2 separate regions of the Homo sapiens genome follow, and region 1 is linked to region 2. Evidence: fine-mapped expression QTL. A gene starts in region 2. The other region holds a variant in brackets. All regions are shown on one strand. Distances are from middle to middle. Region 1 overlaps ATM (ATM serine/threonine kinase). Region 2 holds the start of ATM (ATM serine/threonine kinase).

What was found.
Region 1: its variant is fine-mapped to the expression of ATM in whole blood (TOPMed, PIP above 0.99).

Annotation. Positions count from the first base shown.
Region 1 is chr11:108,244,075-108,252,074 of GRCh38, reverse strand. ATM (ATM serine/threonine kinase) reads right to left here. Exons shown (of 63, transcript NM_000051.4): 6 at 7,957-8,000; 7 at 7,049-7,287; 8 at 4,948-5,111; 9 at 2,973-3,142; 10 at 1,003-1,374; 11 at 44-238. Among named protein-coding and RNA genes, the nearest start is that of ATM, 25 kb to the right of the region's middle. The variant A/C (reference allele first, on the strand shown) is at 3,148.
Region 2 is chr11:108,220,038-108,228,037 of GRCh38, reverse strand. ATM (ATM serine/threonine kinase) reads right to left here and starts at 4,971. Exons shown (of 63, transcript NM_000051.4): 1 at 4,852-4,971; 2 at 342-443; 3 at 150-262. The coding sequence starts at 413. It overlaps NPAT (nuclear protein, coactivator of histone transcription), which reads left to right and starts at 5,400. Exons shown (of 18, transcript NM_002519.3): 1 at 5,400-5,538. The coding sequence starts at 5,502. RefSeq lists enhancers at 2,469-2,588, 4,085-4,134, 4,485-4,564, 4,875-5,034, 5,445-5,504.

The DNA.
Region 1 (8,000 bases), 24 kb before region 2:
AACAAACAAAAAAAACAGCAGCATGCTAATGAACTTAAATTACCTGTGAAGAATTGGAGGCACTTCTGTGCTATTTTCTAAGTCACCCTCTAACTGATAGAATAAGAGCCATTTCATTATTGATTCCTTTAAAGAAAAGCTTCTATTTACTTCACACATATTTTGCTCTATTCCCATTTTTACCGTTCCTGGAACTATACTGGTGGTCAGTGCCAAAGTCAAACAGCATACTGCAGGACTATAACAAAACAAAGGACAATTGTGAAAAGCAAGCTATTGGAGGGGCAAAGACTTTATCTATCAGGACAGTGCCTGGCACATACATTTAGTTAAGGTGACTAAATGAACATAAAAACTGTTAAAAGTCTGATTACATTTGGGAAGATTCTTGATTAAAAAATAGCTCGTTTATTAACAGTGCATAGTACTACAATTTAAACATGGCTATTTAATAAATAATGATAAATTGCACATAAAAGAAATTTAAACTCTTCATAATTCTTTAAAGAAAGTCTTTTGGATACACGTATACAATTAGAAGGAATAAGACCTGGTGTCCGATACATCAGTAGGGTGACTACGGTTAACATTAATCTATTGTACATTTCCAAACAGCAAGAAGAGAATAATTCAAACGTTCCTAGCATGAAGAAAAGATACGTAGGGTGCTGATATCCCATCACCCTACATGAGTGTGTCATATGAGTGTGTCAAATTATCACATGTACCTTGATAATATATAACTCTATTATAGATCAATTAAAAATTTTTTAACTAAAAAAGAAATTCCTTAACATTAGTCTTTAATAATTTGTCAACATTTGAAACTAAATTCACTTATGCATTTATTAAGTCTTCTCGGCCAAACAAGAAAAGCATCTGAAATAGAATTTGACATCTTTAACTGAAGTAACAAACTATGAAAATGATCAGGGATATGTGAGTGTGTGTGTGTCTGTGTGTGTTTATCTGTAAGTCAGACATAATGCATGCTGAACTTACCATGAAGGTCTGCAGGCTGACCCAGTAAATAACTTCCAGAATTCTCTGTCAACCTCAACTAAACTACCCTGAATTATGGCTCCAAGTAAGCCAAAGTTTTCAGCTTGTATTTGCTCAGAACTTATACCACGAAAGGTAATACACCAAATTTTATTCCAGAGTTTTAATAAATCTGACTTTTGTGAGCTTTCTAGGTTTGACCTCTTGTCTTGACACAATGCAACTTCCGTAAGGCATCGTAACACATATGGTGTACGTTCCCCATGTCGCTGTTGGGGTAGAAGCTGAGATAGTATCATCAGTAATGGAGACAGCTCACAGTTAGGTAAACTTGCAGGATACTTTGATATTAATTGGGTTGCAATCTGTAGCCTAAAAAAAAAAAAAAAGGATAATTTGAAAACTATTCCATCACATTAACAAACTAAAAGGAAATATATAGACATGGTACTCTTACAATATCCTAATTAGAGAATCACCATCATTTCCATAGTACTCTAAAAATAAACTGGCTGTTAATAGTTACTATGTCCTACTTCCTAAATTGGCAGGAAAATTGTCAACGTTTGGCTAGCTGGGTAAGCTGTTAAGTTTCCCTTAAACAAATATTTTAAAGGATATTAAATTAGCAATATTTGGGCCAGGTGGTTTCCCAGCACTTTGGGAGGCCAAGGCAGGCAGATCACGAGGTTAGGAGTTTGAGACCAGCCTGGCCAACATGGTGAAACCCAGTCTCTACTAAAAATACAAAAATTAGCCGGGCATGGTGGCACATGCCTGGAATCCCAGCTACTCAGGACGCTGAGGCAGGATAACTGCTTGAACCTGGGAGGTGGAGGTTGTAGTGAGCCAAGATTGTGCCACTGCACTCCAGCCTGGGTGACAGAGTGAGCCTCCGTCTCAGAAAATATATATATATATATATATATATTTAGCAATATTTTATTTCTGAGTTATCTTGTACATCCTTGCTCTTTAGTCACCAAACGATTCCTCTAAAACAGGAAAACAAAGAAACCCAAAAAACTGTTTTTCCTTTACATTAATTCAGTTAATCCAATAAACATTTGCTGTGTATTCTCTAGAATGTGTGATACTTAAGAATAGGAGTCTTATGTTATTCATCTCTGTATATCTAACGCTTAGCCCATAACAGGTGTTCAATAAATTACTCTTGACTAAAAGGACAAATTAAGAATCTTAAATAGCTACTCTTAACTATATAAAAATGAGCTTAAGCAATAGGTATCTAAATCAATATGCTTTTCCCCAGAAGTCACTTACACTTAAACATTCCATCAACATGGTAATCAAAAGAGCACTGATCACGAGTTTGACTATAATCTATAAATCTCTGTCCCTACAGAAGTTGCTTAACCTCTCTGGGTTTCAGTTTCTTTTCAGTAAAGCAAACAGGCTGAACTAGATAAATTCTAAACATCCTTACCAGATCTAATATTTTGGGATTCCAAAGTATCCATAATTTATTTGATTACTTAAATATATGTGAACGTTACATGAGAATAAAGAAGATAGAAAATAAGAGAAAATAACTTTTTATCATGGCATAAGGTCAAAATTATTCTGTGATTTCTTAAGATTATCTTTAACTTCTTCCTAATTCTATTAGAAGGTGCTACGTATGCTAAAATCTATTGTTGAAGCGTACAATTCAGTGAATTCCATGAGGTGCACACTTCTAATTGCCTATCAGAGAGCCAGTCCTCCTTCTTAACTTGCTATGACAATATGATTAAAATAGGTGGCCCTGCACTTGGCCCAAGCAAATGAGCCATTAATGATTGATCTCATTTGTCATGGCAATCACATATCCCTTTGCTAGTAATAGGTTTGGGGGTAGACAAATGACTTAGTTCTGGTTGAGATGAAAGGATTCCACTGAAAGTTTTCTGAAAAATAACATACAAGAGATTAAAATGACACTGAATGAGAAAATGGTAACACTTTACCAAGGCACAAGATCAAAATCATTCTGTGACTTCTGAAGGTGATCTTTTATTACTTCCCAGCCTAGTTCTATTTTCTTCCTTTTGCAAGGGACACTGTAATCACTAGATTCTCTTTGTGTAGTAGTGTAAGATTGAGAAATCTCCAAGGATCTGGTATCTTCATTAAAAACCTGTA[A/C]AATAAAAATAAATCCACTTTTTTCTTTTTTTTTTTTTTGAGCCAGAGTTTCGCTGTTGTTGCCCAGGTTGGAGTGGAACAGCACGATCTCGTATCACCACAACCTCTACCTCCCAGGTTCAAGTGATTCTCCTGCCTCAGCCTCCCGAGTAGCTGGGATTACAGGCTTGCACCACCATGCCCAGCTAACTTTGTATTTTTAGTAGGGACAGAGTTTCTCCATGTTGGTCAGACTGGTCTTGAACTCCCAACCTCAGGTGATCTGCCCGCCTTGGCCTCCCAAAGTGCTGGGATTACAGGTGTGAGCCACCACGCCTGGCCAAATACACTTTTTTCATTGCTATTGTCTTCTAATATTTCATTAGGGGGAAAAAAAATTCTTTCTGAAATGAAGATACAGGGAACTCATAAAGCAAGAGTAATACATTACAGAAACATATAAATCTGATAACATAGTAAGAAACAAACATTTTGCATGACAGTAATGGCACTTTAGAAAGCAGGTATTACCAAGTAATGCATTAGTTTTATTTCCTGGGAACATTTACTAAAAGCACTAAGAAATCTAAAAGTAAAGCAAAAACCTTTACTTTCAAAGGGATTCAAGTTTTTAAATTTAAGAAATTTTAAGAAATATTAAGAAAATATTTGACAGAGTGAAATTACTACTCAGGATGTTAACCAAATCTCTGGGGAACAGAGTTTTATTTAAGAAACATTAGGCCATCAGGTGATGGATGGGTAAGTAAAATGGAGTATATCCATACAACTGAATATTATTCAGCAATAAAAATGAATGAAGTACTGATTCATGGTAAAACATGAACTTTGAAAACATTATGCTTAGTGAAAGAAACCAGACACAAAAGACTCACATATTGTATGATTCCATTTAAACGAACTGTCCCAAACAGGAAAATCCACAAAAACCAAGATTGATTAGTGGCTGGTTGCCAGGATCTAGGAGATGCAGGGAATTGGGACTGAATGCTAAGAAGGGATGAGGTTTCTTTTGGGATGATAAAAAAGTTCTGGGCTGGGCACGGTGGCTCACGCCTGTAATCCCAGCACTATGGGAGGCCGATGCAGGAGGATCACAAGGTCAGGAGTCTGAGACTAGGCTGGCCAATATGGTGAAACCCAGTCTCTACTAAAAAAACAAAAATTAGCTGGGCGTGGTGGCAGGCACCTGTAGTCCCAGCTACTCGGGAGGCTGATGCAGGAGAATCACTTGAACCCGGGAAAGGGAGGTTGCAGTGAGCGGAGATTGTGCCACTGCACTCCAGCCTGGGTGACAGAGCAAGACTCCATCTCAAAAAAATAAAAATAAAATAAAAAAAGTTTCCAGAATTAGTGATGATGGTTGTACAACATAGTAAAAATACTAAAAACCACTGAAATGTACAACTCAAAATCGTGAATTTTATGCTATGTGAACTCTAGCTTAATTGCAAAAAAGAAACAGACTGGGCTTGGTGGCTCATGCCTGTAATCCCAGCACTTTGTAGAATACAGTCGAGTCGAATCGAATCATTAGGGTTAGGGTCACCTTATTTCCTAGAGACAATCATTTAAGAATGAAAAAGTTCATTGTTAGTTTTCAAATATCTGCAAAAGCATTAACTTTTAAGTTAAAAGGGTAATTCCAAATATTTCTGATAGTTTGAAAGGAATAGTTGCATGTACAGAGTCATTTTATAGGCTTTTTGTGAGAACACAGGTTTTAAAAGCCCAAAATGCCCAGTTTAAAAAAAAAATTAACAGGAAATTTCTAAATGTGACATGACCTACTTACTGTACCTGGTGACAGATATCTGCCATCAATTCAATCAAATTTTCTTTGACGGCAATATTACGAAATCCTGAAGAATACTTTCCTCTACTTCCTATATGACTTATCTCATTCACTAGCAGATCATATAAGTTGTATAAAATACTTCTCCATTTTGTTGATTCATAAGCACCTGTAATCCAAAAAATTAAAATGTAATTTTTATGTATGTACTCTGTTTACACTGCTAGCTCCCACAAAATTATTCAGCTGTCAAGCTGCATCAGCGTTAGAAGACACCTGGTCCAACCTTCCATTCAGTACTAATGCCTCTTCTGACAAGATCCTTGACAAACTCTATTTCATAACTGTCCATTTTACATTTAGATAACTGTGTTTCTTATAAATTTCTTCCATATTCTGACCTAAAATCTGTCTTTCTCCAATTTATTCTCCCACCTGAGGCAAATACAATTAATATGTTCCCTCTTTCATATGAGGACCAAGTTCTCCGTATGCCTTTTTCTGGCCTAAGAGAAAAATATTACGAGTTCCTTCAACTAGTGTAAAAATGACATATTATTCAGACTTCTCACCATTTCAGTCATCTTTCCCAAGACACATTCCAGTCAACTTAAAATGCTGACTATACAAAATCTGGTGAACATGGTAATCCAACTGTGGCTTGACTAGTATGCGAAACAAAAGGTCTATTATTTCTCACAAACAAGGTACTACAAAATCTATTAAAGTAGTCTGAAACTACATTAGCTTTTCTGGCATCCTCATCATCCTGCCAATTTTAAATTCACCCTAAATATGCAGTTAACTAAATCCCTAAACATATCATATCACCTCCTAATAAGCCTGATCTTCATCCTGGAGATAAGAGGTGAGTAAAAGATGAAAAACTATTAAAAGTCACTATTCTTTCACTTATAGTAGTTTCATGGGCTACATATTATCTAGATATACTTATTAGAAGAGCCCATAAAACAAATACACAGCTACTTTTGATAAAAAGTGGCTACACGGCCGGGCACAGTGGCTCATGCCTGTAATCTCAGCACTTTGGGAGGCTGAGGCGGGTGGATGGTTTGAGGTCAGGAGCTCAAGGCCAGCTTGGCCAACATGGTGAGACCCCATCCCTATTAAAATACAAAAATTAGCTGGGCATGGTGCCAGGCATCTGTAATCCCAGCTAATCAGAACGCTGAGGCAGGAGAATTGCTTGAACCCAGGAGGCGGAGGTTGCAGTGAGCTAACATTGCGTCACTGCACTTCAGCCTGGGCGACAGAGTGAGACTCTGTCTCAAAAAAAAAAAAAAAAAAAAAGTGGCTACAAGACATTTCCTCCATTATAGCTGCTATTACTCAATGTGGTATGCTGTTTTAAGAAAGTCACTATACTAGCCATGATGAGTTGGTCCAAAGGCTAGTATAAGCCCAAAGGCAATCATAGACAGAGCAAGAGGAAACTCCAGTTCCAGCCAATAAAGTTCCTAACTACAGAAAAGCACTATACCTTCTGGGCAATACTCTCTTGGTATAGGACATATATGAAGGAATTAAGGAGAATAAGTGATTCTCCTTAACAAGTGATACTCTAGGGCAAACAGGGCCCTAGAGTAACTATGAGGCTTAAGGCAGCAATTTCCCTGTTTCTGCCTCAAATTCCTATTAAAGTAATATGTATGTATCTTCCTCAGGAGCTGAATAATCTGACTGGTTTTAGTCCAATTTACGTATTTTATCTTCTAATAAAAGTAATAGGTGGATAAACAAGATCCTGCTTTCTTTAAATTCTTTTGCCCTACAGTCTGTGTCAGACCCCTTAGTATCTAAGTATTGATGCATAAGTAGCTCCTAGAGGGAACAATGTCTCAGATTTTTTTGTATTTCCCATAATACCTAATATTGTATTGAACAAATAGAAAGGCATAACAGAATCTGCTACCACTGCTTCAAATTCTAAAAACTCTATGAAAAACATTCTCATGGCTAAGTAACATTATCAACCAGAGAAATCCAGAGGAAAGTCATATCCTCCTAAAGAACACTAATTTTATACTTAGACTTCTATGTTTGAATGAAGAAGCAAATTCAAAACAGTAAACATTTCCTTTATACCTTTTTCTTGGGTTTTGGCTCCTTTCGGATGATGGATATAAATTTGCAGTTGAAATAATTCAATAATGACTTCTTTTAAAGAATCATTAAGCCTATGTTGAGTCCAAATATAAAGCAAAGTGGGAAGAATTTCATCTCCTAATTCACACACTCGAATTCGAAAGTTGACAGCCAAAGTCTTGAGGAAGATAGTAAGAGCTGCTAAGATATGATTTAGACCTGAAGAGCTCTTTTCTTGTCTGTGAAGAAACAAACAAGCTCAACTGGGTATAACAGGGGGAACAAACTGTACAAACTGAACAGTTATGAAGTGGTATGCTGAAAGAAAAAAAAACAAAACCCTAATTTTCAAACAGTAGTCTTAATTTCAAAACTATTCATTAAAAAAAAAAATCACAGCATTACTTCACACTGACAAAAAATTAGTTCTTATTTGGTGTTAAGAGACCACTTCTGTTAGCTCTCCCTCCTGCTAAAACATTGTATAAAAATAAACAAAACTGATTTGTAACACCATTTATAAAATGTTTCACATTATACATTGAGTACTGCCATACTAATGTACAACAGTAATACTTCCAAAATATTTTCCTATTTTATTTTATTCTCGGTATATTAAAACCATCCTCAAAATGGGGGAAATGCAATGACTTAGAGGATATTTAACTTTCCTGGTCAACAGAACATCAGCAAGACACATCTCCCCCTTGAAAACTTCACGTAGTGTTCTGCATATTGGATATTCAGAAAGTGTTGGACTTGGTTGTCTCTTTAGGAATCCACTAGTTCTGTTATGATGGATCAATGTTTTATTTTAAGGTAGAATTTTTAGTTACTGAGTCTAAAACATGGTCTTGCAAGATCAAAAGTATTTCAATACAAAACAAAAGAAAAAGAGATTAGATTACCTCGCACACTGAATAGCCTTGGAAAAAAAGTCCAAAAATTTGGA
Region 2 (8,000 bases):
AAATATTAAATGCCAAATTCATATGCAAGGCATAATGATATATAGGAAGCAAAGATAAATGTTAAGACTTACACACAAAAGTAATATCACAACAGAAATAAATATGAAAGAGAAAAATAAAGACAGTAAAATAAATTTGAATAGAATACCTAAAAACAGCATCCCAATTCAAATATTTTCCTTGTTTGGAATCTGAATGCCGATCTAGATGTTTAATTGTTTCAGGATCTCGAATCAGGCGCTTAAATTTCTCAACTTCTTTCTGAAAATAAAAAGGAAATAATAATGGGTTACTAATCACACTTATTTCAAGGAAAAATTGAATTTAAGTAATTTACTACCTTTCGTTCTGTAGCTCTATCATGTTCTAGTTGACGGCAGCAGATAAGCAGATCATTAAGTACTAGACTCATGGTTCACAATTTCAGAACACACATCACTGTCTGTAAAAAAAATACATATAGGTATATATATGTATATGTATATATGCATATATAGAGAGAAAGAGGTGTGAAAAAATGTGTATATAATTATTTTATACTGCAGTATTTATAGTTAGATTTAACTGTACAATTAGAGGCACATTCTGGTCAAAGGCACAATAATTTTTCTTAACATTTCCGTATTTAAAATGAGATTTTCTTAAAATCTATACAAGTAATGCTGTAACACAAAAATGTTTGCCTTGCTTGCAGTAGTAGCAGGATTAAAATAAAAGTATAATTTACACTGGACGCAGTGGCTCACGCCTGTAATCCCAGCACTTTGGGAGGCCAAGGTGGGAGGATCACAAGGTCAGGAGTTCGACCAGCCTGACCAACATGGTGAAACCCTGTCTCTACTAAAAATACAAAAATTAGCCGGGCTTGGTGGCGCGCGCCTGTAATCCCAGCTACTCAGGAGGCTGAGGCAGGAGAATCGCTTGAATCTGGGAGGCAGAGCTTTCAGTGAGCCAAGATCGAGCCACTGTACTCCAGCCTGGGCAACAGAGGAAGGCTCTGCGGGGCGGGAGATGGGGGAAGTATATTTACTTTTTATTACTCTGAGACCAAAGAAACATGACATTTAAATTGAGACATGAAAGATGAATAGAAAACAGCCAGGTAAATAAGGAAATGAGCACTCAAGGATTTAACATTGACAATGAACTATTTAAAAGCACTCTTGGCCAGGCGTGGTAGTGTGCTCTTGTAGTCCCAGCTACTCAGGAGGCTGAGGTAGGAGAATCGCTTGAACCCAGGAGGCAGAGGTTGCAGTGAGCGGAGATCGCGCCACTGCACTCCAGCCTGGTGACAGAGCAAGACTCCGTCTCAAAGAAAAAAAAAAAAGCACTCTTGCTTATATGGAGAGACATGTCATTTTGCTGAGCCAAAGGCTTAAAACATGCTTTGGAGCTGATAAGTAGGAGGTTATCAGAGCTAGTAAGCTTTGTCTACCACTTCCATCTCAACTGGTATTAAGGTTCTTATTTAACACATAACAATAGGAGTAAAATGACATTTCTGTTTTAAAAGGAAATGAAGCAAATTCTATGCTATGGTGGTATCCTTTGCAAATATCAAGGATCAACTATATTTTACTATGCCTTGATTCCACTGAGTAGCTCTCTTCTTTTGGGGGCTTCTGATATAATCAAACTCTCTTTTGATGTCCTTCAAAAAAATGTAGTAAGAACAGCATTTCAACATGGACACAAAGATGGGAAGAACAGAGACTGGGGACTGTTTGAGGGTTGGAAAGAAAGGGAGGTATGGCTTGAAGGGCTACCTATCAGGTACTATGCTCACTACCTGAGTGACAGGATCATTCGTACACCAAGCCTCAGCAACATGCAATTTACCCATGTAACAAACCCGCACATCTACCCACAGAACCTAAAGTAAAATAGAAAAGAAAAAAAAAGAAACAGCATTCTGTTTTACTAGTTCTGATCTAAACCTTTATATAATACAAAGAAGTTTTTTATTAAACTATGAATGTCTGTAAACAGAGAAAAAATACATATATTTATGTATATTATACCTACAAATAACTATATCTCAAGAAGTAAAAAGGTAGGGAAAGTCCTTCTCCTATCCATCCATCTAAATTCTACTTAATCTTTCAAGATTAAGTATGTTTCTCTGCCCCGATTCAATCTCACAGAATCTCAAAATTGGGAGGAACTAAAAGACCAGGTCCAATCTTCCTATGAAGGAAGGAATGTCTCTTACAAAATGAATGCCCTGTCTTTGAATATTCTCAGTAAGAGCTGACTACCGGGGCTAGGCGTGGTGGCTCATGCCTGTAATCCCAGCACTCTGGGAGGCCGAGGTGGGCGTTCCACGAGGTCAGGAGTTCGAGACCAGCCAGCCTGGCCAACATCGTGAAACCCCGTCTCTACTAAAAATACAAAAATTAACCAGGTGTGGTAGCATGTGCCTGCAATCCTAGCTACTGGGGAGACTGAGGTAGGAGACTCACTTGAACCCAGGAGGCGGAAAGTGCAGTTAGCTGAGATCACGCAATTGCACTCCAGCATGGGCGACAGAGCGAGACTGTCTCAAAACAAAACAAGACAAAAAAAACAAAAAGAGCTGACTACCCATTTTATTAGCAGATGGCTCTGATTCTCTTCTCCTTTTATATTCACTGGTGGTTCTTCTGACTTCCCCCATCCCCCAACACTATTACAACTTCCGCTTTACTCTGCTATAGATTACAGATTGTTATTTGAGTTCTTTTCATTTGATTATATACTTCCTGTGGACAAGTATTATCATTTTTGTTTTTCCATTCCTTATGGTTTTATCTAGGAATCTTCTTACTTCTTCAATCTCAGTTTAAAGCCCTCTTGAGTCAATAAGGAAAATGAAACTGGTAATCTAACCAATGAAAATACCTTAGCAATATCCAAAGAACCATAAGGTTTGGCACCTTTATTCCTAAATATACTAAAGATTTGACACTTCCCGGAAGAGGCAGCCCTAAACTTGACTTTTTTTTCCCCATGGTGTGACTTCCTTGAACTTGTTTTTCTTACCTTCAGCTTAATGATTACTTTGAAGAAAACAAAACAGTTCAGTATTATCTACATAAACAGAAGATGCTCATTCACTGATAGATGCAAACAATATTTACTACTTATAGCTAGACAAATAATGAACTAAACAGATACAAATCCTACCCTCATGAAGTCATATCTGGGCAGCAGGGTGACAATAAACAAGTAAATTGATAAACCAATGCATAATTCCAAATTGTGATGTATGCCTCTGAGGAAACAAAAACACAGTAATAGAAAATAACTGTAGAGAGAATCATTTTAGATAAACTGTCAGGGAACATATATCTCAGAGGAGTTTATAATAAAGCCAAGATCTGAACTAACTGGTGCCAATCAAAAAAAGGGCTAGAGGACCAACACTTCAGGGAAGGAGACTAGCATAGCCAAAGGGTTCTACAATGTTAAAGAACACAGTATGTTGGCGGAACTGAAAGAAGGCAGAGGAACTATTAGGTAGTCAACTAGAGTATGAGTGTCACCATATAAAGATGAACTTCATTTATACATTAATCCAGAATATCTAGGTTCCACTCAAGGTTCAAACGAAAAGATAAGGATTTCCTACTTCCTACGAGCCTCTGAATTGACGAATTCAGTGTTCCTTTTTAGATCTCAACCAAGTTGACCCCTTTGCACAACTTGACAATGACGCTTATATCCCATCTTCCTAGAAATAACTCTGCCCTTGGCATGCCATTCTTTTCTAGTGCTAAGGAGTGTGGCCTCTGTAGTCAGATTGTATTAGTTCAAATCCTGGTTCAGCCACTTACAAACTGTATAATCTAGAGCAAGTTCACTAATCTCTTCAAACCTCAGTTTCTCAATGATAAAAGGAAAAACAATACTAGTACCTACCTCTATGAGTCCCTTTAAGGACCCATATACATGCTTACAGTGCCTGAAACACAGCAAATGTTAGCAATGATCATATTAACTTCCGTTATGACTGTTTCGAAAGTCTCCTGATATCTCTTCTTCCGCTCATACCTCAAAAACAGCTTTGTTTTCTTGGTCTCATCCATTCCTATGACTTCAGCAGCTGAAAACCCACAAAATATATTTCATTCAATGCCAGGCCTCACGCTGGAGCTTCAGGGTCCTTCTACACTTTGTGCCTTTACACGCATTTTTCCTTCCATCTGGAAGGCTTCTACCATCTGCCAAGGTAACACTGCGAGGTCTCACCACAAACTGAATTGATAGTCTCAGGCTGAGTTTGCAGAGAACCAAAGTCACTCCTCTACCATCAGAGTACTCCCCTATCACCACATACATTATCATCCACTGTAGTTGTCTTATCTGTACCTGGTAAATACAGCAGCTAACGCTCACGAGTGCTCACCACAGGTCAAGATTATCTCACTTATCTTCACAAGACAGTAGAGAGCGGCCACACGACTGACAGAATTCCAATTCCAGCCGTATGATTCCAGAGCCCAAGCTCTTAACCGCGAGGCTGAAGTTGAAATATCAATAAATGCTCGCTGACTAAAAGTACTAAATACGAGAGAGAGATCAAAAGATGACTAGTCAAGTCGCGTAGTTAAATCTGAACCCTAAGGTGACACAAAAAGAGGATGCGCAGGAGGCAGGGTTCAATTCAGGGCGTTTAAAAGGAGGAGGTTATTGGCCAAGTCCGCTAAGCACCCGGAGAGAGGCCAGGAAAGATGGAGTGAGGAGAGGGAGGAGTCAAGGGCCACTCTGGAGGGGTGCATGAGATTGGCGGTCTGGGGAGAGGACAGACTGGGTCGCACACGACTGAATTTCCCAGCGCAGAAGCCGCTGCGTTGCCTCCGCGCCCCTACCACTGCACTCGGAAGGTCAAAGTAGTATCAACCGCGGCGGTGGCTGCAGCGCAGATCCCGACTCCTCTCGCCTCCTCCCGCGGCCACGGCTTCTTTTCTCCGTTAGCCACGCAGCTACCTACTCCCGCTTCCGGTTCAAACCCTGCGTGACTGCCCAGCGCCCACTTCTGGAGGAAGAAGCAACGCCAAGCAGCCGCAGAGCACGGTATGCCCATGCGCATCCAGTATCACGCGGTCTCCGCGCTCAAAACACTGCCCCAAAACATTCGGCCCGTCGGAGCAAACGCGCCTGCGCCATGTCCACCAATGGCCAGCGACTTAGCGTTTGCGGCTCGCCCTTCGGCTCGGGCTCCGGGGCTCTCACCCACCCTCTTCGCCCTCGTCGTCCTCCCCGCCCTCCTCATCCCCGCCCCTCCAAGTCTGAGGACGGAAGTGACGACAGTTCCGAAGGCGAACGGAGGCGGGTTTCATTTCGGCGCCTTTCTTTCTCTGGCGGAAGCGATTGGCTGCCGTGAAGCGAAAGAGGCGGGACAAATTGCCGCGAGTTCAGTGCCGCCACTGGAACCAGGAGATGCGGCGCAGGAGCTGTCGCTGTGTTTGCTTTAACCTGAGTCTTGTTCCTTATTGTGGTTCCTGCTGTGGTTTTGATCATGTTGTTACCCTCGGACGTAGCCCGGCTTGTATTGGGTAAGCGCGGACGCGGGATGGAGGGTTATTGGACCCGGCTATGCTGGACAGAAGGACCTTTGAGGCCAAAGGTTTTCCCTTGGTAGGGAAGCTTTGGGGTTTTGCCTCCCAGCTTACGAGTTGAGACTGGCGGTGATTCTTCGTCATTCGGAGGTTCTGGGCAGTTTAAGCCTCTTTGTATGTAGATGCTCCTCTCTTCAGAGGCTGCGTGGCGAGGGGAAGCCCGAGGGGAAGCTCGGGGTGGAACACCTGGGGCGGATTCGGAAGGAAAGTCAGGCCTCCACACTTAATTAGGACCCCTGAAAGAGCATTTGTCTGCATGACGGACGGATTGCGTGTGCTTCAACCTTGGGCGCAATTTCCTTGGTTCAGTGTTGGGACCAAAATAGGGCAAATAGGGAGTTCCCCGGCCCCCCATCTTTGTAGAGAGACCTTCCTGGCGCCCTTCTAATAACCCGCCCTTATAACTACGAATTTGGGAGTAGGGGTGATCTTCCTTCTCCATCCTCCACGCAATACGTCGTCCAGTGTAGAGGTGTGAAATGCCAGTTGCATATTTTAAAACAGCAATTCCTGTTCCTTTGATCAGCGAAAAATTTCAGAGGGTTAATTGCCTTAAATTAGTTGAACGTTTTCTAGCCCTAGTTTTACCTTCATTTGAGGAGGGATTGTTTGTGGGTCACTTGTCTGTCAGGGTGTATTGTCTGTGTGAGAGACGGGTTTTGTTGTTGTTTGTCCCCTGAAAGAATAAAGAGGATTGTACTACAGGGGACGAGAGCCAGGTAAAGCTCAAAACCCGAGCCAGTAATTTACGGACGTCGTATGCGACGTCCCTAAAAGTAAATGGCAAGCATCTGTGATGAAACCTCCCATAGTATTCACAGCCATTACTACTATTATTTTATTGTTCGGAAAACCCATTTGTCTTGTGCCTCTTTTAAATGCCCAGCGCTGTCCACAAAAATGTTATTTGCGCAGGGCTCTTGATAAGCACATTTTGCAGGAAACGTTAAACGGAAATGGTTCCACCATCCATTTTTGAAGAAACTTAATGACAAGTTTAATGTTTTGTTAATGTCTGATTAATCTTTTGCTTAAGAATTCTGAGTTTTGGCAGTTTGGTAATCTAGTTGAGTTTCGGTAACTATAGTCTTAAACATGGTTTCTCAGCCTCAGTACTGTTAACATTTTGGGCCTCATAATTCTTTATTGTGGGGAGCTATCCTGTGCTCAAACATTGTAGGATGTTTAGCAGCATTCCTGGCTTCTATTCACTAGATTACAGTAGGACACCCGTTCCCCACCCTACCCTTACCCAGTTGTGATCAGTGAAAATGTCTCTAGATATTGCTAGTATGTCCCCTGGAGGGCAGAATCACCCCTAGTTAAGAAAGCCCTAAGAAAGCAGTATCATTTTCTAATTGAAATAATTCACATCGATGTGTGAGTATTCTTTCTCCACAAACCAGCTACTCTGCTGACTTCCTGCTTTTCATTTAATGGACAAAAAACGCCAGCCATGGTTTTCTTATCTTAAAAATCTTTGTCATTCACATTCCATTTTCACTGCCACCAATCCCGCAATGTGCCTGCCATTACTTCTCTTTTGGACTTCTGTCATGGCTTCCCAGACAGTTGTCCTCGCAATTCATTTTATTTACTGTTGTTACAAATCTCCCTGAAGCTTTCACACTATACCTTTTAGTCTGAAAGTTGAGATAATTCTATTCTTACTAAAAATTTCAGATGGGCAGGAGTATACAATACAAAAAAGCCTCCCCATGCCTAATGCTCTTACTTTTGTCGTTTATCATTTTACATCTTAAATAGATACATATCGTGTATATCTTTCTCATATGAGGTTTATTATTTACTCATGATTCTTTTCCTATCAGTACCCCCTCGCCATCTTCAGCTCCTCTTGTTATTGGTCCCTTCATAATGTTTTTTTTCTAGCAAATCTTTGGGTGCCTAGTATGTTCCAAACACTGTGCCAATTGCTGAACATAGAGAAGTTAAGTTTTCTCCCCTTAGTGTTCAGATAATTAGGTTTTTTTTAAATTCTTAAACATACACACAAAAAAACACTTTTCTGGACCCCACTAGACATTAGACACCCATTAAACAGAACATTCTGTCTTATGTTCTGTGTCACCCTTTCACAAGTCAAATTTATTCAAAGAACAATGAATTCCACTTAGTTGCTGTTCTTCACCTACCTTTTATCCTTCAGGATACTGCACTCTGACTTTTGCATCTCACTACTCCACTTAAGTAGCCCTTATTGCCTTGCTGGGATTTTACAAAATGTTGTGTGGGCCAGAATACATCAAAGTGTTTGTTGCCTCTGGGCCATCAGTTCAGTTTTTATCTATTTATTCAAGGTGCTCTGTGGAACTGATCCTACCTACCTCTCCAACTTGATCTCAACTTCCTAACATCTGTTTTATGCTGCAGACATG